7 linked regions of the Homo sapiens genome follow. The protein of the gene in region 6 purifies or fractionates together with the protein of the main gene of each other region. This does not show direct contact. Each region holds a gene or a part of one and is shown on either strand. Other genes may lie near its edges.

Region 1 (4,078 bases), on a different chromosome or scaffold from region 6:
AGCAGGAGAATCGCTTGAACGTCGGAGGCGATGGTTGCAGTGAGCCGAGATCGCACCACTGAACTCCAGCCTGGCAACAGAGCTAGACTCCATCAAAACAAAGAAAGAAAGAAAAACTGTTTGTAAAAAAAAAAAAAAACAAACAAACACTGAGGCAAAGGCCACAGCATCTGAATTTACCATCATCATCTCTATGTCACACTCAGGGACCTGAGACCTGGGCCTCAGTCCTACCCTCCGCTCTACCAGTCTACCCAAAGTCTCATGTGTTCATGTCTCTCTCTTTTTTTTTTTTTTAGATGGTCTCACTCTGTCACCCAGGCTGGAATGCAGTGGCACAATGTCGGCTCACTGCAACCCTGACCTCCTGTGATCTAGTGATCCTCCCACCTCAGCCTCCTGCACAGCTGGGACTACAGGCACATGATGCCATGCCGGTCTAATTTTTTGTACTTTTTGTAGAGACAGGGTTTTCCCATGTTGCCCAGGCTGGTCTTGAACTCCTGGGCTCAAGCAGTCCACCTACCTCAGCCTCCCAAAGTGCAGGGTTTACAGGTGTGAGCCACCAAGCCCAGCCCAAAGTCACAGGTCTTATCAACAGAGGCAGGATTTAAGCCCAGGGCCCTCTGGTCTGATTATGTAACCTGACATTTCTCTATTAGCAAAGTTAATGCAGTTAATGAGAATGAAGCATTTCAAATCCACATATACATTTCAGCCACTCCCATGGACAAGGGCAGAGAAGTGTAGTCATCATCATCCACCTCACCAAAGAATCACCTGACGTGGTGACACCTGATCAGGTGTTAGGGCCTGGACCTGCTTCCAGGGAGAATTCACAATGAGCCATCGCTTCCTTTTCTACCTAAGTCCTACTAGCAGGCATCCCTGAGGCCAGAAGATTCCATGAGCAAGCAACAAGAGTCATAGAGGGCACAGCAGGTTGTAGCCAAGACAATATGGGCCCATCTGGAGATTACATCTATCCTGGCTGAGTAGGAGGGTACATTCAGCAACATAACCATACAAACGTGCCCTCTCAGAATATGTCAGCAGGTAAGGGAGTAAGGGGAACCACATATAAAACCACCGTGGAAGCCACACAGGTCCCCTGAGAACTCCTTAAACAACCAATATACCATTTTTTAAGTCTACACAGTTCCACCAGTATGAAAGGCCATGACTCCTCATGCCCAAGATCACTGGCTAGAAGGAGGCCTCATCTTGCAAAGGTTACTTTAGGTCTCACCCCCAGGCCTCCCTAACCACTGCGGGTAAAGAAGAGGGTAAAAACACAGGCTATGATGTTAGACACACCAGTTGTTAGTTTCTGACTTAAGAAACTTAAGAGCTACAGTGATGTAAGGCAGGTAATTGGACGTATGTGACCCTCAAATTGCTCTTGTGTAAAACAATGATGACAACAGAACCTAATTCTAAAGAGTAATCCCAGCACTTTGGGAGACCCAGATGGGTGGATCACCTGAGGTCAGGAGTTCAAGACCAGCGTGGCCAACACGGTAAAACCCCGTCTCTACTAAAAATACAAAAATTAGCCAGGCGTGGTGGCGCACACCTGTAGTCCCAGCTACTCAGGAGGCTGAGGCAGGAGAATCGCTTGAACCCAAAAGGCGGAGGTTGCAGTGAGCCGAGGTCACGCCACTGCACTCCAGCCTGGGCGACAGAACAAGACTCCGTCTCAAAAAAAAAAAAAAAAAAAAAAAAAAATTTCAGGGTTAAACGAACTGAGGGTTAAATAATACTCACCGATCAGCCCACAGCAAGGACTCAATGACAGTTAATATCATTCTTTGCAATTATTTTTCTTTGTTCCCATTACATCCTTGACAAACTCAAATCCACAAGCTTCTTTAATACCATCAGATTATCTACACAAAAATACCAGACTCTGGGCAAGGGTGTAAGGTGCCACTTTAGCCGGAATTGCCAAAAAAGGCACCTCCAAATAGGTGACACCTGGACAGATGCCAAAAGGATGTGAAAGGGAGGCCCTGCAAAGTTACAGGGGCAGTGTTCGAAGTAAAAGGAAGTGCAAGGAGAAAGCCTGGAAAATGGAAGAGGACTGCACGGTCAGGTTGGTGGCTCTGAAGAGCAAAGGACCAGGGAAAAATGCAAACAGACAAGGTCAGGGGTGGTTGGCCAGGTGGATGGGGTACGGGCTGGCAGGCAACAGAGAAGGTTGGATTTAGGGGAAGTGTGATGAGATCCCTAGAAGGAAGCATCACTCCTTCAACCACGGACTGAACACCTATCAGAGGCCAACACTGTTGCAGGACTGCGGATAAAGGAAATGACAAGCCACGGCCATTTCTCTTAAATAAACGATGGCGACAAAGAAAAATCCTGTGGCTGTCTTGGCTTCCAGCCTGCCCACGAGGCCTCTAGAAATAGCACAGCAGCAGCAAGGCCGAAACCTCGTCCACTCACCTGCGCCGGAGCCATCCACGCCGCCGCCATCCCGGGAATGCCGCGGATCAGCCGACCACAGCCCTTCTCTGTCCTGGGCGGGGCGACCTCGGCTGACTTTCGCACTCCGAGCCTCAGTTTTCCCCCGAAAAAAATGCGCACAAGGCCCAAGGCGCAGCGTCGGGGCTGAGGAGACGGAGGGCGGCTGCGGAGGCCTAGGCCTCGGCGGGCGCCGGTGGGACACCTCGTTAGGGGAGAAGCGGGGCGTCAGGCTCCCGCCAAGACGCGAAGAAGGGGCGTAACCGCTTCACTACCCGTCCCTGCTCAGGCCGCAGAACGCGCCCACCCAGCGCTCTAGGCCCCACACTGTTTCAGGGCCAAACCGGCCCACGGAGATGACGTCACACGAAGAAGCGGAAGTCCCGCCTCCGCCGCCCTGGCCCGCAGAAAACTCTCCTGTCCTGGGTCGTCAATGGCCCAGAGTCCGCGGCCGACGCAAGGGGCAGTGCCTTCTGGGTAATGCAGTTTTTCCCTTACATCTACCGGGTGTGGGAACTCACCCAGCGCATCCGACTGCACGTAAGTGCGCACCAGAACCCCCGCGTCGTCTTAGGGCCACCGCCTTAGTATAGGCACAAGTCGGAGGGTCGAAAGGTCCCTTCTAGCTCAGGAAAATCGAGGTCAGGAGGCGGGGATATTCGCCCCGATTCAGACCCCGAACAAAGGTGCTTACCCTGCTGTGGGCTGGGCCCGCGACTTCTCGCTTGCTTTGCCTCTTTTCTGGATCTTTTCATAGAAGAAAAGGATAAATGAGCAGTTAAAATAGCCACCCAAAGGAGGACGCCTGACAGTGTGCCCAGCCTGCTGGGAAAGGACAGACCGCCCTCTATTGGGCCTCCTTTGGCCGGGCCCAGCCTTCGTAGGATGCAGGGACTTCCGGGTGATGTAATAGGCTTCGCGTTCGCCACGTGTGGACTTCCCGTACCCTGAGGTGGGGAGGCTGCTAGTGGAGCAGGCTTGCCGGGAAGCCCAGTACTCCCATTTCAAGCATGATCAGTTTGAAACGTCAGTAAGACCACAAAGCGTAGTGCCATATACTCAACCTATGATTCAACATTGGCAGAGGGTTCGAGCGTGGATATATAAATTTGGGAGTTATTACTGTAAACTGTTACTTCAAGTCATGATATTGGGTGAGGCTATGAAAAGAATGAGCGTAGATGGATAAGTGACGGGAAAGAGGGGAACCCTGGCCCAACCCAGCATTAACTGGTTGCAGACAGGAGAGTTTATAAAGTCTTGTTAGGAATTTTAACAATCCTAGACTATGCAAAGATTATATTATGCGAAGTCTTAGGAGTCCCCATCAGTAACTTTTTTTTTTTCTTTTCATGACTATGAAAGTGAGAGAATAAAGTCCAGCTTTCAATGGTTTGACGATATATATGGTTAAGGAAATAGAAAGGTGTGCAGAAAGTACTCTCCAAGAGATTTAATTTTGAGATTGAAAATAGTCAAGGAATGGAGATGGAGTCAATTTCCTACACGATGCGGTACTTTTGGAGAAATATTTTTGGCTAAATTAGTGTGCAAGGAACACTGTTATTCATCACTGGCAATAGTAATTTTTGAAAATTGATAAAGACATCAT
Region 2 (3,500 bases), on a different chromosome or scaffold from region 6:
ACTTGTAGAAGTTTTCTTCAGTATGAACTATCTTACCTATAATGAAGTGTGACAACCATTTAAAGGCCTTGTCACATTCTTTACATTTCTAGGATTTCTCACCAGTATGATTTTTTATGTTTAAAAGTTTTAGGTGTTGTCAAAAGCACTGTCACATCTTTCAAGTTTGTAGAGTTTCTTTTCAGTATGAATTATCTTTTTTTTTTTTTTCTGAGATGGAGTGCCACTCTTGTTGCCCAGGCTGGAGTGCAATGGCGCGATCTCAGCTCACTTCAACCTCTGCCTCCCGGGTTCAAGCAATTCTCCTGCCTCAGCCTCCCGAGTAGCTGGGATTACAGGCATGCACCACTACGCATGGCTAATTTTGTATTTTTAGTAGAGACAGGATTTCACCATGTTGGTCAGGCTGGTCTCGAACTCCCAACCTCATGTAATTCACCCGTCTCAGCCTCCCAAAGTGCTGGGATTACAGGTGTGAGCCACCGCACCCAGCCAGAATTATCTTATGTCTGGTAAGAATTGAGGACTTGTTGAAGGCTTTGCCATATTCTTCACACTCATAGGGTTCCTCTTCAGTATGAATGTTCTTATGTTTAGTAAGAATTCAGGACGGGTTAGAGGCTTTGCCACAATCTTCACATTTGTAGGGTTTCTCTCCAGTATGAATTACTTTGTTCAATAAGGTTTGAGGACTGGTTGAAAGCTTTGCCGTATTCTTCACAGTTGTAGGGTTTCTCTCCAGTATGAATTACCTTATGTTTAGTAAGAGTTGAAGACTGGCTAAAGGCTTTATCACATTCTAGGTATTTGTAAGATGTATCTCCAATATGAGTTATCTTATGTTTAGTAAGGTTTGAGAATTGGTTAAAAGCTTTGCCACATTCTTCACATTTGTAGGGTTTCTCTCCAGAATGAATTACCTTATGTGCAGTAAGTTTTGGGGACCGGTTAAAGGCTTTGCCACATTCTTCACATTTGTAGGGTTTCTCTCCAGTATGAATTATCTTATGTGCAGTAAGGTTTGAGGACTCATTAAAAGCTTTGCCACATTGTTCACATTTGTAGGGTTTCTCTCCAGTATGAATTCTTTTATGTTTAGTAAGGGTCGAGGACCAATTAAAGCCTTTGCCACATTCTTCACATTTGTAGAATTTCTCTCCAGTATGAATTATCTTATGTTTAGTAAGGTATGAGAATCGGTAAAAAGCTTTGCCACATTCTTCACATTTGTAAGGTTTCTCTCCAGCATGAATTATCTTATGTGTAGTAAGGGTTGAGGATTGGTTAAAAGCTTTGCCACATTCTTCACATTTGTAGGGTTTCTCTCCAGTATGAATAATCTTATGTGTAGTAAGGTGTGAGGACCGGTTAAAAGCTCTGCCACATTCTTCACATCTGTAGGGTTTCTCTCCAGTATGAATTCTTTTATGTGTAGTAAGGTGTGAGGACCGGTTAAAGGTTTTGCCACATTCTTCACATCTGTAGGGTTTCTCTCCAGTATGAATTATCTTATGTGTAGTAAGGGTTGAGGACTGCTTAAAAGCTTTGCCACATTGTTCACATTTGTAGGGTTTCTCTCCAGTATGAATTCTTCTGTGTCTAGTAAGGGTTGAGAACCAGTTAAAGACTTTACCACATTCTTCACATTGGTAAGAATTTTCCCTAATATGAATTCTTTTATGTTGAGTTAGGTGTAAAAGCATGCAAAACGATTTGTCACATTTTTTACATTTGAAAGGCTTCTTTCCAGTATGTCTTATCTTTTGTATATTTGGATTTGAAAATTTATAAAAGACATTCACATATTTATCATATTGAAATATTTCACTCTGGGTAGTTGTCAAACACTGGTTTAGTTCATCATAACATTCTTTGTGCAGATTACACTCATCCACACTTTTACAGCCTGTTCTTAACTGTAAATCTTCATGTCCACATTTTCCATATCTTCTCAATATGACTTCTTGGAAAGAATCTTTTATGCCCTGCTCTGGCCAAAGGTCTTGGGCAAAATGAGAATATGTAACTGAAAGAAATAAAAATAACAAATTACTCCATTTACTAGACTCAGATGAATATGCTTTACAAATCTAACCCATATAATTATACAAACTACATAAACAAGATGGCATAGCAAAATAATAAAGGCCCTAATTTTTTTTTTTTTTTAGACAGAGTCTCATTCTGTAGCCCAGGATGGAGTGCAATGGCGTGATCTCTGCTCACTGCCACCTCCGCCACCCAGGCTCAAGCTATTCTCCTGCCCCAGCCTCCAAAGTAGCTGGGATTACAGGCACGCACCACCACGCACAGCTAATTTTTGTATTTTTAGTAGAGATGGGGTTTCGCCATGTTGGCCAGTCTGGTCTCGAACTCCTGACCTCAGATGATGCGTCCACTTCAGCCTCCCAAAGTGCTGGGATTACCGCACTTTGGCACACCAGCCACCGCGCCTGGCCCAAAGGCCCTAATTTTTTACAGACATGTAAATGTAACAAAAACATCCAACAAAAATACATCTGAGGAAAATTTATAAATAAGTTAAGTGTGTGAAGTGCCCCAGCTGAGCACAACATAGAGAGTGACACAGAAGAAAAAGAAAAGTCTGTTAAATTTACCCAACACAGCTCTTCCTGCTCCCCACTGCCAACTTTTGGTTTCTTTTTTAAAAGACAATTAAAATACTGCCACATACATCTTTATTACTTGCTTCTAGGGACCTATCTATACACTGGTTTCTGTCTCCTATGACATCTAGTGCTGAAAGAAATGGTGGTATACTTTGGAATGACAGTTTAAGTCTGCTGAGACCAAAGCTAAATGTTACAGCAGCAGAGAGACTGCAGTGCCACACACAGAAAACAGGTGTAGCAAGTTATTACTATTAAGAAGAAACAAAAAAAGGCCAGTTGTGGTGGTTCATGCCTGTAATTCCAGTACTTTGGGAGGCCAAGGCTGGCGGATCACTTGAGGTCACAAGTTTGAGACCAGCCTGGCCAACATGGTGAAACTCCATCTCTACTAAAAAAACAAAAGAAAAGTTAGCCAGGTGTGATAGCGTACACCTGTATTCCCAGCTACTTGGGAGGCTGAGGCAGGAGAATCACTTGAACCCAGGTGGCGGAGGGTGCAGTGAGCCGAGATTGCGCCACTGCACTCCAGTCTGGGAGACAGAGCAAGACCCCGTCTGACAAAAAAACAAAAAACAAACAAAAAAAAAAACTAAAAAAAGAAGAAACACAAACTCTTTTAATTAAAAAATAAACACAAAATTGTAGACAAGACACATTCTAGCAACATGTTTGAGAGACTCCCAGTATCTCTAATCAAGACAATTGTCCAGACTATGCCAGGACAAAGCTACATTATAAGGATTGTGACAGGTAGCTTTTTTAAATGTACAAATTTCAATCAAAGATTACAATGTATACAAAATAAGGCAATATGGTTTTATCAAAAATATAAAAGTTTCAGAGAGAAACCATAAAAAATGTATATAT
Region 3 (3,500 bases), on a different chromosome or scaffold from region 6:
GTAATCCCAGCACTTTGGGAGGCAGAGGCAGGCTGATCACGAGGTCAGGAGATCAAGACCATCCTGGCTAACAAGGTGAAACCTCGTCTCTACTAAAAATAAAAAAAAATTAGCCGGGCATGGTGGCGGGCGCCTGTAGTCCCAGCTACTCAGGAGGCTGAGGCAGGAGAATGATGTGAACCCAGGAGGCGGGAGGCGGAGCTTGCAGTGAGCCGAGATTGCGCTACTGCACTCCAGCCTGGGTGACAGAGCAAGACTCTGTCTCCAAAAAAAAAAGAAGCTAATGCAGATACTTAACTTTAAGTTGAAGACAGCGCTCATTTAACCTTCTGAAAATCCTAGGGCCATTAAGAACTATGCTAAAAGTACTCTGCCTGTGCTCTATAAATGAAACAAAGCCTGGATGACAGCACATCTGTTTACAACAGATATGCTATTTACGAATACTTAAAACCCTCTGTTGACACCTACTGCTCAGAAAAAAAAGACTCCTTTTAAAAAACTTACTGTTCGTTGATAATTTACCTTGTCACCCAAGAGCTCTGATGGAGATGTAAAAAGAATGAATGTTCCTTTGACTGCTAACACATGTATTTTTCAGCCCATGTATCAAGGATTAATTTCTATTTTTAAGTCTCATATTTATGAAATACACTTTGTAAGGCTACATGGCCGCCAAAGATAGTAATTCCTCTGATGCAACTGGGTAAAGTAAGCTGAAAACCTTCTGGAAAGGATTCATCACGCTAGATGCCATTAACAACATTTGTGGGCATGGTGGCTCATGCCTATAATCCCAACACTCTGGGAGGCTGAGGCAGAAGGACTGCTTGAGGCCAGGAGTTTGAGACCAGCCTGGGCTACGAGCAAGACCCTGTCCCTACAAAAATAAATAAATAAATAAATAAAAATAGACGGATGTGGTGGCATGCACCAGCACTGAGGTGGGAGAACTGCTTGAGCCCCAAAGTTCAAGGTTACAATAAGCTATGACAGCAGCACTACACTCCAACCTGGGCAACAGAGCAACACCTCCATGTCTTAAAAGAATATTTGTGATTCATGGGAGGAGGTCAAAATATCAACTTTTAAAGATTTTTATTTTTTGACCACCTACGCATCTGTGAAGTTACAAAATATCAACAAGAGTGTGGAAGAAATCGATTTCAACCTTTATGGATGACTTGGAGGGGTTCAAGACTACCCTGGATAAAGTAACTACAGATGTGGTGGAAACAGTAAGAGAACTAGATTCAGAAATGGGGCCTGAAGATGTGCTTGAATTGCTGCTCATGATATCATTATTTGTTCATGATTACGGATGAGCAAAGAATGTGGTTTCTTGAGATGGACTCTACTCCTGGTAAGTCTATTTCTGTTAGCATTGTTGAAATAGCAACAAAGGATTTAGAATATTACACAAACTTAGTTGTAAATTAGTAGGAAAATTGGAGAGGATTCACTACAATTTTGAAAGAAGTTCTACTGGGGGTAAAATGCTTTCAAATAGCAGCACATGCTATCGAGAAATCTTCCATGAAAGGAAGTGTCCATCAACGTGGACATTGTTTTCATTGTTGTCTTATTTTCAGATATTGCCACAGCCACTCCAACCTTCAGCAACCACCATCTTGATGGGTCAGCAGCCACCAACACTGAAGCAAGACTCTCCACCAGCAAAAAGATTACAACCTGCTGAAGGCTCAGATGATTAAAATTTTTTAGCAATATTTAAAAATTAAGATATGTGCATTTTTTAGACATAATGCTCTTCACACTTTAAATAGACTACAGAATTGTATAAAACTCTTTTTTTTTTCAAATGATAACATCAGTAGTAAACCTAACTTTTAAATGCACCAGGGTACCCAAAAATGTATATGACTCGCTTTTTCATGGTTGTCTGGAACTGAACTCGCAGTATCTCCTAGGTGTGCCTGCAATTCTTTTGGGATCCATTCTAGTTGCTGTATCAATACAATCACGCACTGCATAATGACATTTCAGTCAACAATGGACTGCATAAATGATAGTGGTCCCATAAGACTATGTTGGTGAAAAATTCCTAGCACCTAAGGATTATCACAGCCTTCATAACACAACACATTACTCACGTGTTTATGGTGATGCTGGTGTAAACCTACTGCACTGCTATATGCATATGACTATATGAAAGTATAGCACATACATATGTACAGCACGTAATACTTGATAATGGTAATAAATGACTATGATACTGATTTATGCATTTACTACACTTCTTATCATTATTTTAGAGTGTATTCCTTCTACTTATTTAAAAAAAAAATCAGAAGTTAACTGTCAAACAGCTCAGGGAGGTCCTTGAAGAGGTATTCCAGAAAAAGACATTAACATCAAGATGACAGAGTCATGTGTGTAATTGTCTCTGAAGACCTTCCGGTGGGACAAGATACAAAGATGGAAGACAATGATACTGATGATACTGACCCTGTGCAGGCCTATGCTAATGCATGTGTTTACATCTTGGTTTTTAACAAAAAATTTTAAAGGAAAAACAACAACAACAACAACAACAACAAAAACTTTTAAGCCAGGCGTGGTGGCTCACGTCTGTAATCCAAGCACATTGGGAGGCTGAGGTGGGTGGATCACCTGAGGTCAGGAGTTCAAGACCAGCCTGGCCAACATGGTGAAACCCCGTCTCTACCAAAAATACAAAAATTAGCCGGGCATGGTGGTGGGCACCTGTAGACCCAGCTACTTGGGAGGCTGAGGCAGAAGAATCGCTTGAATCCAGGAGGCGGAGGTTGCAGTGAGCCAAGATCGTGCCACTGCACTCCAGTCTGGGTGATGGTGACGAGAGCAAAACTCCGTCTCAAAAACAAACTCCAAAACCTTTTAAAATAGAAAAATGCTTATAGGGCAAGGATATAAAGAAAAAATATTTTTGTACAGCTATAATATGTCTATTTTAAGCTGTTACTAAAAAAGGGTCAAAACTTTAAAAATTTTTTAAAATTCATAAAGTAAAAAGTTACTGCAAACAAGTTAATTTTTTAGATAGAAAAATATTTTATAAATTTAGTGGAACCCAAGTATACAGCATTTATAAAGTTTACAATGGTGTACAATTATGTCTGAGGCCTTTGCATTCACTCACTGGCTCACCTACCATAATTTCCAGTGCTGCAAGCCACATTCATGGTAAGTGCCTTAGGTATACCATTTAAAAATATTTTACACCTTATTTTTACCATACCTTGTCTTTATTTACATATACAGATACTTAACCATGGTGTTAGAATTGTCTATAGTATTTAGTATAGTAGCATACTGTATAGGTTTGTAGCCCAGGAGCAACAGGCCATACATATCATATAACTTAGATATCTATAAGGCTATATACCATGTAGTTTTGTGTAAGCACACTCCATGATGTTGGCACAACAAAACTCTCTAATGACACATTTCTCAGAATTTATCCCTAATGTTAAACAAGGTGTGACTGCAGTTTGTTC
Region 4 (3,500 bases), on a different chromosome or scaffold from region 6:
TCTACTAAAAATCCAAAAAATTAGCTGGGCATGTTGGCGAACGCCTGTAATCCCAGCTACTTGGGAGGCTGAGGCAGGAGAATCGCTTGAACCTGGAAGGCGGAGGCTGCAGTGACCTGAGATGGGGCCACTGCACTCCAGACTGGGTGACACAGTGAGACCCTGCCTCGAAAAAAAAAAAAAAGAACCTGACCTTGACCCCAACCTTTCTTTCAATTCCTAACCTACATTTCACTTGCAAGAATGGCACCCCCAAAACTTACCAAGTTTAAAACAGAATTCATTCAATCTATTGAATAACTGAGTCTTTGAGTCTTTCTACACGCAAACAGCTTTGAGAAACAGGTATAAATAAGACGCCCTCAGCAAACTTACATGCTCATTCATTAAAAAAAAAAAAAAAAAGACAGGGTCTTGCTGTGTCGCCCAGGCTGGAGTGTGGTGGTGCGATCATAGCTCACTATAACCTTGAACTCCTTCTGCCTCAGCATGCCTGGTTAATTTTTTTTTTTTTTTTGGGATGGAGTTTCGCTCTTGTTGCCCAGGCTGGAGTGCAACAGTGCGATCTTAGCTCACCACAATCTCCACCTCCCAGGTTCAAGAGATTCTCCCGCCCCAGCCTCCTGAGTAGCTGGGATTACAGGCATTTGCCACCACACCCAGCTAATTTTGTATTTTTTAATAGAGATGGGGTTTCTCTATGTTGGTCAGGCTGATCTCAAACTCCCAACCTCAGGTGATCAGTCCGCCTTGGTCTCCCAAAGTGCTGGGATTACAGGCGTGAGCCACTATGCCCGGCCTACTTTTTTATTTTTGTAGATAATTTTGTATGTCTTGTTATGTTGCCCAGGCTGGTCTCAAACTCCTGGGTTCAAGCAATCCTCCCACCTCAGCCTCCCAAAAGTGCTGGAATTACAAGCGTGAGCCACTGTGACTAGCCACATGCTGATTCTTAATCCTGTTGCTTCTCAGAAAAGGCACCATCAATATTCTAGAGCTTAGATTTGAATCCCCAGCCATAACCATATCTGACTTCCCCTCACCATTCAATCAGCACTTGCAGCCTGTGGACTCAACTCCCTGCAGTGTTTCTAGTAAATCATATTCATTTCCATCCCCACAGTTCTAGCTCAACATTTGTTCCAAATGTTGCTCCACATACGGTCATACACAAATACAGGTTTACTAAACAGATCTTTATCATAAACAGTGAATACTGATAATCACATAAAATGGTTCACCTCTTGATACTCTTGTTTGGACCAAATTCTAAGAATTTCAACCTGTAAAACAACTAGGCACATTGGCTAGAGAACCAAAACAGACACCCCCTCCTTTTTCTCCTGGACTAATTCTGGGTCCTCAAATTTCTGAACAGAATTGCAGATACGTTACCAAGAACAGCTGGAACCCTAAGAGGTGAGGTGATATTAAATGCAAGCCTAGAGTGGCAGGTTAAACATGGCCGGGTGCTTTGGCTCACGCCTGTAATCCCAGCACTTTGGGAGGACAAGGCAGGCGGATCACGAGGTCAGGAGATCGAGACCATCCTGGCTAACACAGTGAAACCCTGTCTCTACTAAAAATACAAAAAATTAGCCGGGTGTGGTGAGGGGCGCCTGTAGTCCCAGCTACTCGGGAGGCTGAGGCAGGAGAATGGCATGAACCTGGGAGGCAGAGTTTGCAGTGAGCGGAGATTGTGCCACTGCACTCCAGCCTGGGCGACAGAGCGAGACTCCGTCTCAAAAAATAAAAAATAAAAAATAAAAATAAACTTATTTTCAGCTCAGTAGCTCACACCATCTATCAAAATATTGGTAATGCCACAAGACTGCAGTGACAGAACCCGATTTTGAGAAGACATTCAAGTTCTTTAAATTCCTGAATGCAATGGAGCAATCTAAAAGGATGATGTAGAAATACATCTCTACAGCCGGGCGTGGTGGCTCATGCCTGTAATACCAGCACTTTGGGAGGCTGAGGCGGGTAGATCACTTGAGGTCAGGAGTTCAAGACCAGCCTGGCCAACATGGTGAAACCCTATCTCTACTAAAAAATGCAAAAATTAGCTGGGCGTGGTGGCAGGAGCCTGTAATCTCAGCTACTTGGGAGGCTAAGGCACGAGAATCGCTTGAACCTGGGAGGCAGAGGTTGCAGCGAGCAGAGATCGCGCCATTGCACTTCAGCCTGGGTGAGAGGGAGACTCAGTTTAAAAAAAAAAAAAAAAAAATATATATATATATATAAGCCAAGTATCACAGTGTTACCTTGGACAATAGGATCACCAATGACTTATCTGTATGTTGAACTTTTTTTTTTGGAGATAGGGTCTCTGTGGCCCAGGCTGGAATGCAGTGGCTTGATCACAGCTCTCTATAACTTCAAACTCTGGACTCAAGCAATCCTCCTGCCTCAGCCTCCTAAGCAGCCAGGACTACAGGCGCGAGGCAGTGAACCCAGCAAATATTTTTATTTCTTGTAGAGACAAGGTCTCACTACATTGCACAGGCTGGTCTTGAGCTCCTGGCCTCAAGTGATCCTCCCACCTCGGCCTCCCAGAGTGAGCTGCTGCACCCAGCCTTGTACTTATTTTTCAAAACAGTGAGTATATATTACATATGTTAAAATGTTGTCTAACCATTATTTCTCAAGATCTAAACACACAGCAATAAAAACAGCTGATAAGTGTATTTTCAGTATTTTTTATCAGTATGTTTTATCAGTATTTTTCCAGCTGTCAGCTCTCTGCCTTAACCACCAATGCTTTTACATTAAAGTGTTAAATGTGAAGTAAAAGGGAAGAGTGAGTAACACATGCTTATAAAATGTAGACAGGGATTTACAGCTTAATCTTTGCTAATGACTTATAATCAACCTATTGGGTGAGGATACCAGATAATTACCTAGTTTGAGGTATAAGCAAAAAATAAACCATAGATTTATGAACGACTTTTGACAGCTGCTACTGGCTTGTCGTCTTTATCACAACACAAATAAGTACTATATTAGAATGTGTAGGGAATGGATTTATTCCCAAAAACTGACTAATACTTACAGGAAGTATGAAAATTATTATTCCAGTAAAAGTAGAAATTCTTTTACGTTGAGGACAATTATTTCATGTTCTTTCTTTGCAAACGCACAAATACTTCTCCCAGCAGTCTTTTTTTTTTTTTTTTTTTGAGACGGAGTCTCACTCTGTTGCTCAGGCTGGAGCGCAGTGGCGCGATCTTGGCTCACTGCAAGCTCTGCCTCCCGGGTTCATGCCATTCTCCTGCCTCAGCCTCCCAAGTAGCTGGGACTACAGGTGCCCGCCACCACGCCTGGCTAATTTTTTTATTTTTTTTATTTTTAGTAGAGACGGGGTTTCACTGAGTTAGCCAGGATGGTCTTGATCTCCTGACCTTGTGATCCGCCCGCCTCGGCCTCCCAAAGTGCTGGGATTACAGGTGTGAGCCACCGCGCCTGACCCTCTCCCAGGAGTCTTTTTTTTTTGAGAC
Region 5 (3,500 bases), on a different chromosome or scaffold from region 6:
AAGCGGTCATCCAGCCCAACCTCTTCATTTTAGAAATTAAAAAACAGAAGGCCCACAGATGAAATTACTTGCCCCAGGTCAGTTCACCAGGTAGTGGCAGAGACAGGATTAGAAAACAAGTCCTTGGCTCTTTCCAGAAAATAATTTTGCTTTCTTGGTGAAAGACCTAAAAGCAGGCATAAACATGAGGTATGTGGTACTTACCGATGCTCTCCAATCATCTACAAAGTACTCAAATAAGGGCAGTATAACTTAGTACACAACAGTACAAGCTCTGGAGTGGCCTTGCCTGTTATCTCAGCCATCACCCCTGATAAGGTCATCTAACCTCTGTGCCAGTTTCATCACTGGTAAAAAAAGAACAACAGTACTTACTCCAGAAGGTTGGTATATGCATGGAAAGTGCTTAGAACAGTGACTAGCATATAGTAAGGACTTAAATGTTATCTCTGTGTGTGTGCTACCTAGAATAAACTCATATTTACAAACTTCTTACATATAACAACAAAAATATGTTTAATCAACACGTTAAATTACAATTTTCCTTGCCTCCCTGGATTTTACAAGAACAGTTGGAAGATGATTTAAATATAGTTATATATGTTTGCAAAGCAGGGGGACACCTAGGAAATTCACAGATGGGTGTCCGGACTCAAGAGACCTTTAAAATTACGTGTAAAATTTGGCTAGGCACGGTGGCTCACACCTGTAATACTAGCACTTTGAGAGACCAAGGTGGGTGAATCACTTGAGGCCACGAGTTTGAGACCAGCCTGGCCAACATGGTGAAACCCCATCTCTACTAAAAATACAAAAATTAGCCGAGTGTGGTAGCGCACACCTATAACCCCAGCTACTCAAGAGGCTGAGGCAGGAAAATCGCTAGAACCCGGGAGGCAGAGTCTTCTGTGAGCCCAGATTGCACCACTACACTCCAGCCTGGGTGACAAAGCGAGACTGGGTCTCAAAAAAAAAAAAAAATTATGTATAAAATCCCATATTAAAAAAAATCCCATATATATGTATTTGTGTATCATATATGTTTCTCAGAAGTAGGTCCAGGTCCTTAGCAGATTCTCAAAAGGGATGGAAGCACTGCTTTGAGAGAATAAAACTGGAACTAATGCCTCTGAGGTATCAGGCAGATTCACAATGCTCCCAATGTTTCTTTCTTGTCTATCGCCCTATCCTGCCATGGTTCCCAGTATTTAAGGGCATCACTAAGGATTCAAGTTCTGAGATTTAAGGAACAGAAGCCCCTTGAGTGTGACCCTTTTATTTATTATTTTGGAAGATCTCACTCTAGCCCTGAGCATTCTAAGATGACAAAGCAGAGAAACAATGTAAATTCTTCCACTGGATTAGGGAAAAAAAATAGATCTTCCTCAAATTAGTGTAGAGACTTGTCCTCAACGTGAAAGTTACTATACAACTTAATAAGCAATTTCCTTTGTCTACCAGAAATTCTAAAACCTCTTTACCCCAACTATAACAGTTAAGAATTAAGAAAGAACCCTTTCGGCCAGAACTGCCATCTTGCAGTAATTCATCAAAATGACAAACACAAAGGGAAAGAGGAGAGGCACCCAATATATGTTCTCTAGACCTTTTAGAAAACATGGAGTTGTTCCTTTGGCCACATATATGTGAATCTATAAGAAAGGTGATATCGTAGACATCAAGGGAATGGGTACTGTTCAAAAAGGAATGCCCCTCAAGTGTTACCATGGCTAAACTGGAAGCGTCTACAGTTTAGCATGCTGCTGGCATTGTTGTAAACAAACAAGGGCAAGATTCTTGCCAAGAGAATTAGTGTGCGTATTGAGCACATTAAGCACTCTAAGAGCCGAGAAAGCTTCATGAAACGGGTGAAGAAAGATGATTAGAAAAAGACAGAAGCAAAAGAGAAAGGTACCTGGGTTCAACTGAAGCGCCAGCCTGCTCCACCCAGAGAAGCACACTTGGTGAGAACCAATGGGAAGCAGCCTGAGCTGCTGGAACCTATTCCCTATGAATTCATGGCGTGACAGGTGTTTAAAAAATGAAAGACCTCTGGACTGTAAAAATGTTTCTCTTCATTGAGTAGAAGTGTGGTGTTCTCTCCCCCAAAGAAATATTTAAGGCAAATTTTAATTATGTCCTAGTTCATTATGTAATGTCTTTACTCTTCAAATTTAATGTATTTCTTGCTGAAAGACGTGAGGTAGCTTATTGTGCAACAAACTCCTCGATTGTTTAGAAAATGGCCAGGTATTACGTATGAAATATTTGTACTGGTTTGAAGATAGTCCCTTGAAATGATCAAGGAAGAAATAAAGTAATTTACAAAAATAAAAAATAAAAATAAAAAGAATGAAGGAAGTTCTTTTATGGAAAAGATTTTATATCAGACATGTCCTCTAATATTCTGCTCTGATCATTGCTCAGATTGCTTTTATGAACCTCTGACCTCAAGTCTCTAAACACTATGGGGACAGGATCTGTGTCTGTCTTGCTTACTGCCACATCCACAGCCCCAGCTTGGTGCCTGGTACATTAGGTTATCAATAAGTGTGTGCTGAATAAAAAACTCTAGGCCGGGCGCAGTGGCTAGCGCCTGTAATCCTAGCACTTTGGGAGGCCGAGGCAGGTGGATCACCTGAGGTCAAGAGTTTGAGACCAGCCTGGCCAACATGGTAAAACGCTGTCTCTATTAAAAATACAAAAATTAGCCGGGTGTGGTGATGTGCACCTGTAATCCCAGCTACTCGGGAGGCTGAGGTAGGAGAATCACTTGAACCCGGGAGGTGGAAGTTGCAGCGAGCCAATATCACACCACTGCACTCTAGCCTGGGTGACAGAGTGGGACTGCATCTCAAAAAAAACAAAAAACAAAAAACAGTGTGTATATAAAAAACCATTTTCTCAACACAGACAAAGCAGAAAAAACAGAATAAATAAATTAAAATAACTATAAAATGTGTTTTATAAATCTAAAACTCAAGCCAACTCATCCAGCAAACCCAAACTATGCATTATTTCTGTCAGCTTTCATGACTGGGACCTACCTGAAAATAGTGGCTGCATGTTGAACAATTCAGCATCATATACTTCCATTTGGCCAGAGGTCTTGTTCAAAATTCCCACAAAGTGCCTGAATAAAGAAGAAATAATACAAATAACAATGGATTATTCAAAAGCATTATTTGTACAGCTTTCTTTTTTTTTTTTTTGAGACAGAGTCTTGCTGTCACCCAGGCTGGAGTGGAGTGGCATGATCTCGGCTCACTGCAACCTCCACCTCCCGGGTTCAAGCAATTCTCCTGTCTCAGCCTGCTGAGTAGCTGGGATTACAGGCGCACGCCACCATCCCCGGCTAATTTTTGCATTTTTAATAAAGATGGGTTTCACCATGTTGTCCAGGCTGGTCTCGAACTCCTGACCTCAGGTGATCTGACCCTATCAGCCTCCCAAAGTGCTGGGATTACAGGCGTGAGCCACTGCACCTGGCCCTGTTTCCT
Region 6 (3,500 bases):
TCAGAAAACAAAAATAGCAAGAGAAGGACCTTGTTTTTAATCCTGACTTCAGCACTGACTCTGAGCACCCTCGAACAAATCTATACCTCACTGAGCCTGTTTTCTCATTCAAAGCCTGAATGGTTCAAATCATGGCTCGGCCCCTCACTTGCTGTGTGACTTTGAACAGGTTTCTTAGTTTCTCTGCTTCGGTTTCCTCATGGGTACAATAGGAATGATAATAGTTTTACCTTGTAGCTGGTTATGAGGATCAAGCGCATTAATTATTGTAAAGGTCCTAGCACACGAGTTCTATCCAAGTGTTTGATATTATTACCACTGCTGCTGCGGATGTTACTGTTGATCGCTATTCTTATTTTGATGAAGAGGACAAGACACCTTTGGAGATGTTTCCTCCTCTCCTAGAACACTAAAGTTTCAGAAATGTTTCCCAAGTCTCCCTGACTTACCCACTGCTCATGCAATGCCTCCTCCACAGGATCAGAGCTGTGCTCTGGAAAACACCCACATTCTCTGGGCAGTGACACCTCCACACTCACCTCCTTGTCTTTTCTCAATGATCCCCCCATCTGGTTTCCTTCCCTCCCACCTTCCGCCACGGTGCCTTGCTTCCCTTCCACCTGCTCCCAGGCCCACCTCTCTTCCATCCCAGTTCTTGGAAGGAGCGGTAGGTAGAAAGAGCCTCCCTTTCCCATCCCTTCTCTTACTTCCCCCCACCCCCACAATGCCAGCTCTTTACAATACGCAGAGGGACCTCAGCGAGGGCCATTTGAAAGCCCTGTGTAAAACCAGGAAACCATGGGGTGGGGTGAAGGGAAGTTAGAAAGAACTCAGGACTTATGAATGCATAATGCTGAACTTTTTGGAAATGGATGGGCCTGGTGCCAGTCCTCACTAGGGCTCCTAGATTGTATTCTCCTTACAAAAGGGCCATTATGAAAGTTCCGCATCTCCCGTGTGACAGGTTCAGAGCCATAAATGGCATGACGTCAGAGGGACCAGGGGAGGAATAGGTTTCCCAGCCATGTCCTCATTGTCAAGGGCACTGGGACCCTGGAAAGAGGTTTAGGGGAAGGAGGGAGACACTTTGGAGAAAGCCGCAGCAGTTCCCAGCCGTTCTGCAAAGGAGGCCGCTGAGCTTGCCCGAGGCATCAGCTAGACCTGTCTGCACCACGACCACCCAAGGCCCCCTGCCAAAACCGCAGAGTGCCTCGAAAGAATCATTACACCCTCTTCCTCACCTCAAGACACGTAAGGGCTGATCACTTGGCTTATCCAGCCCCCACGTGACATCCTGGAAGAGCAGCACCTCCCACCTCTATCTCTGCATTTTCTTTTGGGATCATTTCTTTTCTACCAGATAGGAGAGGTCATTTCCTATAGTTAGGAGATTGTAGACAGGGGAGAAGTTAGGGGAGCTGGACTGGCATCCTACCTCTGTAATTACCTAACTGGTTGGAGTCCACACTCTCCTTTCTACAAAATGAAGAAGTTGAAGTTAAAGATTGGTAAAAAAAAGTCCCTTCCAGTTACAAAGGTCTTTCCTCCTGATGCTGGTTATAAGGAAGCATGTTACCATCTTCTCCACCAAAGTTGGCTTGACCGGACCCTGCGCTCATTCCCTTTGCACAGTCATCTACGTTTAAGGTAAACATTAACCAGCTCTGTCTTTCTCACTCTTTCTCTCTCCCCACGCCAACACACACAGAGACCACACGCCTTGAGACCAGCGAAAATGCAGAAGTTTGGGTTCAAGCATACCCAGTGTTCCCTCATAGCTCTGAAGACACTTGTCTGCAATTATTGTATTAAAAAGAGAATGCACACTCCTTCATATAAGCATATAGAAGACACCTTAAATTAACCAACACAGCTTCCCTAATAGTGGGTTACAGCTCAACACTCCAGAGCCCTGAAATGGGACAACAAAATCTTGGGACAAACAAAAATGGGAAAAACAAAAAACAAAATGGGACAAACAAAAATCTTGCTAGACCAATGGTCTCTCAAACTTTTGGGGTAGAGGAAAAAAGTAATAAAACTTCAATTCATATATATTTTTTCTTAAGAGACAAGGTGTCACCATGTTGCCCAGGCTGGAACGCAGTGACTATTCACAGGCGCGATCACAGCGCACCTTGGTCACACCCCTTGCCAATTCCTTTGTGCCTGCTTCTTCCCGGAGGTCCATTCTTGCTGTGAGTTCCTATCAGTGAGGCTCCTTTTGGTCACAAGCACATTAGTTCCAACCCAAGTAACCTAATTTTCTTTCCAGAACAGTTGGCCGTGCCCTTCAAGGCTTCTTGTATTGCAGAAGCACATGTTCCAATCAAGGGTGCGGGGGCTGAGGACAGAGCTTTGGCCCTGTCTAGAACTTCCTCTGAGATTTACTTACTGTAATAAGTCTGACCAGATGTATTGGTTATTTGAGAAAATATTACCTTGGTCTTTAAATATATAGATGAGTTATAGATAGATAGATACAGATAGGTAGGTAGATAGATGAAAGTAAAATAAAGAAAAAAATTGGTTTTCTGGAGAACTGTGAACAAAACAGCAAAATAACCTCCCTAGTTGGGCAGGAACCCAGAGATACAGGCTGCTAAGAGTGAAATAAGTATGCAGAGAGTAAGTCATTGTTTCACTGGTGCATTGAATGGCAACTAACAACCCATTTGTGGTGAGCATGCCAGATACAGACGATGTCTTCACCAAAGCACAGCGGAGAGGAACAAAAGGCCGGGCTACTCACCCACACATTGGTTGCTTTCATCCATCTGGTATCCAAAGCGGCATATAAGAGGCCTGGAGATCGTGGGATAGTTTGGAGCTGAGAGTGGTGGGGCAGCTGCTGGGTACGGACCTGAGTAGGGGGTCGAGTAGGGGTTCGAGTAGGGCCCTCGATACACAGGGTTTGTCCGGGGAATGCATAAATACCCGCCATTTTGGTTAACACACATCATGTCTCCTCGGCAGGCCTCGGGGATGGTTCGGCATTCATCAATATCTGAAAGGCACAGAAAGGGCGAGCATTAGTGGCACCCCAACTGCCTTGTGTCCGGTGCATATTTAAGCAGAACTCGGTACCAGGCGTGGAGGAAGCACTCCCAAACACCTAGGGTGGTCCCAACTCATCGCGGTAAGGTACCCCAAATGTTGGCTGAAGTGTATCAAAGTAACCAGTGTCACTCAAACATCAGCCTTTCAAATACCACCATCATGATTTTGACCATATCTACAAAAACCTTGCTATAGTTTGAATGTCCCTCCAAAACTCATATTGAAACTTAATCCCCAGTGTTGCAATATTGAGTGGTGGGGCCTTTAAGAGGTGATTGGATCCTGAGGGCTGTACTCTCATGAATGGATTAATCTACTCATAGATTAATGGGTTAATGGGTTATCTTGGAAATGAAACTGGTGGCTTTCTAAGAAGAGGAAGAGAGACCTCAGCTAGCAGCCCAGGCCCCTCACCGTGTGATGCCTTGCGTACTTCGGAA
Region 7 (3,500 bases), on a different chromosome or scaffold from region 6:
TAATGCTCTAGCTGAAGGCTCAACTGCAGCCATAAATTTCACGGTGTTTCTTTTCTTCTTTTTTTGAGATGGAGTCTCGCTCTGTCACCCAGGCTGGAGTGCAGTGGCGCCATCTCGGCTCACTGCAAGCTCCACCTCCCAGGTTCATGCCATTCTCCTGCCTCAGCCTCCCAAGTGGCTGGGATTACAGGCGCCTGCCACCACGCCTGGCTAATTTTTTTGTATTTTAGTAGAGATGAGGTTTCACCGTGTTAGCCAGGATGGTCTTGATCTCCTGACCTCGTGATCCGCCTGCCTCGGCCTCCCAAAGTGCTGGGATTACAGGTGTGAGCCACCACACCCAGCCTTTTTTTTTTTTTTTTTGAGATGGAGTTTCACTCTTGTTGCCCAGGCTGGAGTGCAATGGCATGATCTCAGCTCACCGCAACCTCCACCTCCCAGGTTCAAGCGATACTCCTGCCTCAGCCTCCCAAGTGGCTGGGATTACAGGCGTGCACCACTACACCTGGCTAATTCTTTTTCGTATTTTTTTTTTTTTCAGTAGAGATGGGGTTTCTCCATGTTGGTCAGGCTGGTCTCGAACTCCCGACCTCAGGTGATCCACCTGCCTCAGCCTCCCAAAGTGCTGGGATTACAGGCGTGAGCCACTGCGCCCAGCCCACGGTGTTTCTTATAGATGAAGTTTCCTGATATTGTTTCCAACTGTTTCAGACACGTGACATTGACATCACATTTATAAAAATACTCTCTTAGGAAAAGTCTCAGCCAGGGACGGTGAATCACACTTGTAATCCCAGCACTTTGGGAGGTTGAGATGGGTGGACTGCTTGAGTCCAGGAGTTTGATACCAGCCTGGGCAACACAGTGAAACTCCGTCTCTACAAAAACACAAAAATTAGCCAGGTGCAGTGGTGTGTGCCTATAGTCCCAGCTACTTGGGAGGATGAGGTGGGAGGATTGCTTGAGCCCAGGAGGCAAAGGTTGCAGTGAGCCAAGATCCGTGCCACTGCACTTCAGCCTGGTTGACAGAGTGAGACCCCCATCTCAAAAATAAATAAATAAATAAAATAAAAATAAAATAAAATAAATAAAAGTAATTATTAAAATATATTTTTAAAAAGAGAAAATAAAGAAAAAGAAAAAAAATGTCTCTGTGGGTCTGAAATTGTGTAGTTGGTTTATACTTTTTTTTTGAGATGGAGCTTTGCTCTTGTTGCCCAGGCTGGAGTGCAATGGTGCGATCTCAGCTCACTGCAACCTCCGCCTCCTGGGTTCAAGCGATTCTCCTTCCTCAGCCTCCTGAGTAGATGGGATTACAGGCATGAGCCACCACGCCCAGCTAATGTTTTGTATTTTTAGTAGAGATGGGGTTTCTCCGTGTTGGCCAAGCTGGTTTCGAACTACTAACCTCAGGTGATCCACCCGCCTCGGCCTCCCAAAGTGCTGGGATTACAGGCGCGAGCCCCTGTGCCCAGCCGATACTTTTCTTTGAATTGCAAGTTAGTTTGATGCTCTGCGGAGAGGCCCATCCCTCCGGTTGAGCGCCACTCACCTCAGATGCCTCTGTGGGATTTGGTGCTGATCTCCAGTGTTATCAAATCTCCAATTTTCTCCAAAAATAGACCAGGAATCACTTCCTGTGAACTTTACAATCTCTTCATCATTGGATATTCCATTCCCAAAAACGTCCCTCTGAGAACTTGATCCACTGGTTCTAACATAAATGTAACAATCTGCAACAATCAATTACACAATTTCTTAGGAGAAATATGTTGGGATAAAGGAAATAGACCACATACGGATTTCTTTTCATATAGTAATCCAAAAATGTACCGTTTATAAGGAAGAATAGACATGCTATCAAAGTGAGACTCTGAGGACCTCATCTACTTGAGAATTTGGCAATAATAAAAAGCAGATGAGCCGGGTGCAGTGGCTCATGCCTGTAATCTCAAAGCACTGCGGGGCCAAGGTAGAAGAATTGCTTGAGCCCAGGAGTTCAAGACAAGCCTGGGCAACATAGGAAAATAAGGAGACCTCATCTCTAAACAACAATAAAAAATTTAAATTAGCCAGGCGTGGTGTTGTGTGCCTATAATCCCAGCTCCTTGGGAGGCCAAGGAGGGAGGATCACTTGAGCCCAGGAGGTCAAAGCTGCAGTGGGCCATGATTGCACCACGGCACTGCAGCCTGTGTGACAGAGTGAGACCCTGTCTCAAAAAAAGAATAGTGCTGGATGCGGTGGCTCACGCCTGTAATCCCTGCACTTTGGGAGGCCGAAGCGGGTGGATCACCTGAGGTCAGGAGTTCGAAACCAGCCTGACCAACATGGTTAAACCCCATCTCCACTAAAAATACAAAAAATCAGCCGGGCATAGTGGCACGTGCCTGTAATCCCAGCTACTCGGGAGGCTGAGGCAGAAGAATCACTTGTACCTGGGAGGTGGGGGTTGCATTGAGCCAAGATCGCACCATTGCACTCCAGCCTGGGCAATGGGCAGTAAGAGTGAAACTGTGTCTCAAAAAAAAAAAAAGAAGAGATAAACGTGGCAACCCATTTACTAAGAAACAGAATAGTTCCAAACAGATGGAGACTGATGTTTAGTAAAATATTATCAGAAAAGCAAAGTTTGCACATGCACAAATGCTCCTCGTATACGAGGAAATCCAGAGGCTTTCCCCTGCGAAGGAGGACAGTGCAGGGGGGTGCAGGAGAAGCCACACAGGGCAGCTGAGAGAGGACACACCTCCTCCTCCTCAGAGAAGGGTTTGTGTTTCTTTTTTTTGTTTTGTTTTGTTTTTTGAGACAGAGTCTCACACTGTCACCAAGACTGGAGTGCAGTGGCACTTTGTTGGCTCACTGCAACCTCCGTGTCCTGGGTTCAAGCAATTCTCCTGCCTCAGCCTCCCGAGTAGCTGGGATTACAGGCACCTGCCACCACGCCCGACTACTTTTTATATTTTTAGTACACATGGGGTTTCACCACGTTGGCCAGGCTGGTCTTGAACTCCTGACCTTAGGTGAACCACCCACCTAGGCCTTCCAAAGTGCTGGGATTACAGGCGTGAGCCACTGCGTGCGGCCAGGGGTTTGTACTTCTAACCCACGATGCCAAACGGAACCTTCTTATCCAGAACCCACTCCTCCCGAGGGCTGCTGCTCTCCTGGTGCTCACAGGCACAGGGCCCTTACAGGAGTCCTTCCTCCACTATGCCCGGCTGCCCTCAGGTGTGAGCACCACCCATTCCTGGAGAATCACATGATGAGGAAGGATTGTGAAGGGCAACAAATGTTCCCCTGAGACAGGCCAACACTTTGACTTCCCAGACCACCGATGATGTCCGAGTGTGAGTTTTAATTGCAGCAAAATTACCATGTCAAACGTGGATTACTCACAGTGTAACTTGGATTTACTTTATCACAGTGTACTTTGATTTTCAAAGTACAGTTACTCTGTGTGGTGAACCACAAAGCTGCTTTTGTTGCCCCAACGTGACAC

The links.
Region 1: the proteins of FBLN5 (region 6) and ZNF460 purify together in Homo sapiens (affinity purification with mass spectrometry; one large-scale study listed by BioGRID and IntAct). This does not show direct contact.
Region 2: the proteins of FBLN5 (region 6) and ZNF430 purify together in Homo sapiens (affinity purification with mass spectrometry; one large-scale study listed by BioGRID and IntAct). This does not show direct contact.
Region 3: the proteins of FBLN5 (region 6) and R3HDM1 purify together in Homo sapiens (affinity purification with mass spectrometry; one large-scale study listed by BioGRID and IntAct). This does not show direct contact.
Region 4: the proteins of FBLN5 (region 6) and PRR14L purify together in Homo sapiens (affinity purification with mass spectrometry; one large-scale study listed by BioGRID and IntAct). This does not show direct contact.
Region 5: the proteins of FBLN5 (region 6) and POLR1E purify together in Homo sapiens (affinity purification with mass spectrometry; one large-scale study listed by BioGRID and IntAct). This does not show direct contact.
Region 7: the proteins of FBLN5 (region 6) and ZNF77 purify together in Homo sapiens (affinity purification with mass spectrometry; one large-scale study listed by BioGRID and IntAct). This does not show direct contact.

The regions. Positions count from the first base shown.
Region 1 is NC_000019.10:57,279,207-57,283,284, reverse strand, and holds the start of ZNF460 (zinc finger protein 460), read right to left. Parts: upstream 2,801-4,078; 5' UTR 2,479-2,800; coding exon 2,449-2,478; intron 1-2,448. UniProt on the Homo sapiens protein: May be involved in transcriptional regulation.
Region 2 is NC_000019.10:21,055,157-21,058,656, reverse strand, and holds part of ZNF430 (zinc finger protein 430), read right to left. Parts: intron 2,027-3,500; coding exon 636-2,026; 3' UTR 1-635. UniProt on the Homo sapiens protein: May be involved in transcriptional regulation.
Region 3 is NC_000002.12:135,537,984-135,541,483, reverse strand, and holds part of R3HDM1 (R3H domain-containing protein 1), read right to left. Parts: intron 1-3,500.
Region 4 is NC_000022.11:31,743,633-31,747,132, forward strand, and holds part of PRR14L (protein PRR14L), read right to left. Parts: intron 1-3,500.
Region 5 is NC_000009.12:37,488,948-37,492,447, reverse strand, and holds part of POLR1E (DNA-directed RNA polymerase I subunit RPA49), read right to left. Parts: intron 3,134-3,500; coding exon 3,048-3,133; intron 167-3,047; coding exon of another isoform or gene 73-166; intron 1-72. UniProt on the Homo sapiens protein: Component of RNA polymerase I (Pol I), a DNA-dependent RNA polymerase which synthesizes ribosomal RNA precursors using the four ribonucleoside triphosphates as substrates.
Region 6 is NC_000014.9:91,934,195-91,937,694, forward strand, and holds part of FBLN5 (fibulin-5 isoform 1 precursor), read right to left. Parts: intron 3,008-3,500; coding exon 2,753-3,007; intron 1-2,752. UniProt on the Homo sapiens protein: Essential for elastic fiber formation, is involved in the assembly of continuous elastin (ELN) polymer and promotes the interaction of microfibrils and ELN. Stabilizes and organizes elastic fibers in the skin, lung and vasculature.
Region 7 is NC_000019.10:2,934,972-2,938,471, forward strand, and holds part of ZNF77 (zinc finger protein 77), read right to left. Parts: intron 1,734-3,500; coding exon 1,553-1,733; intron 1-1,552. UniProt on the Homo sapiens protein: May be involved in transcriptional regulation.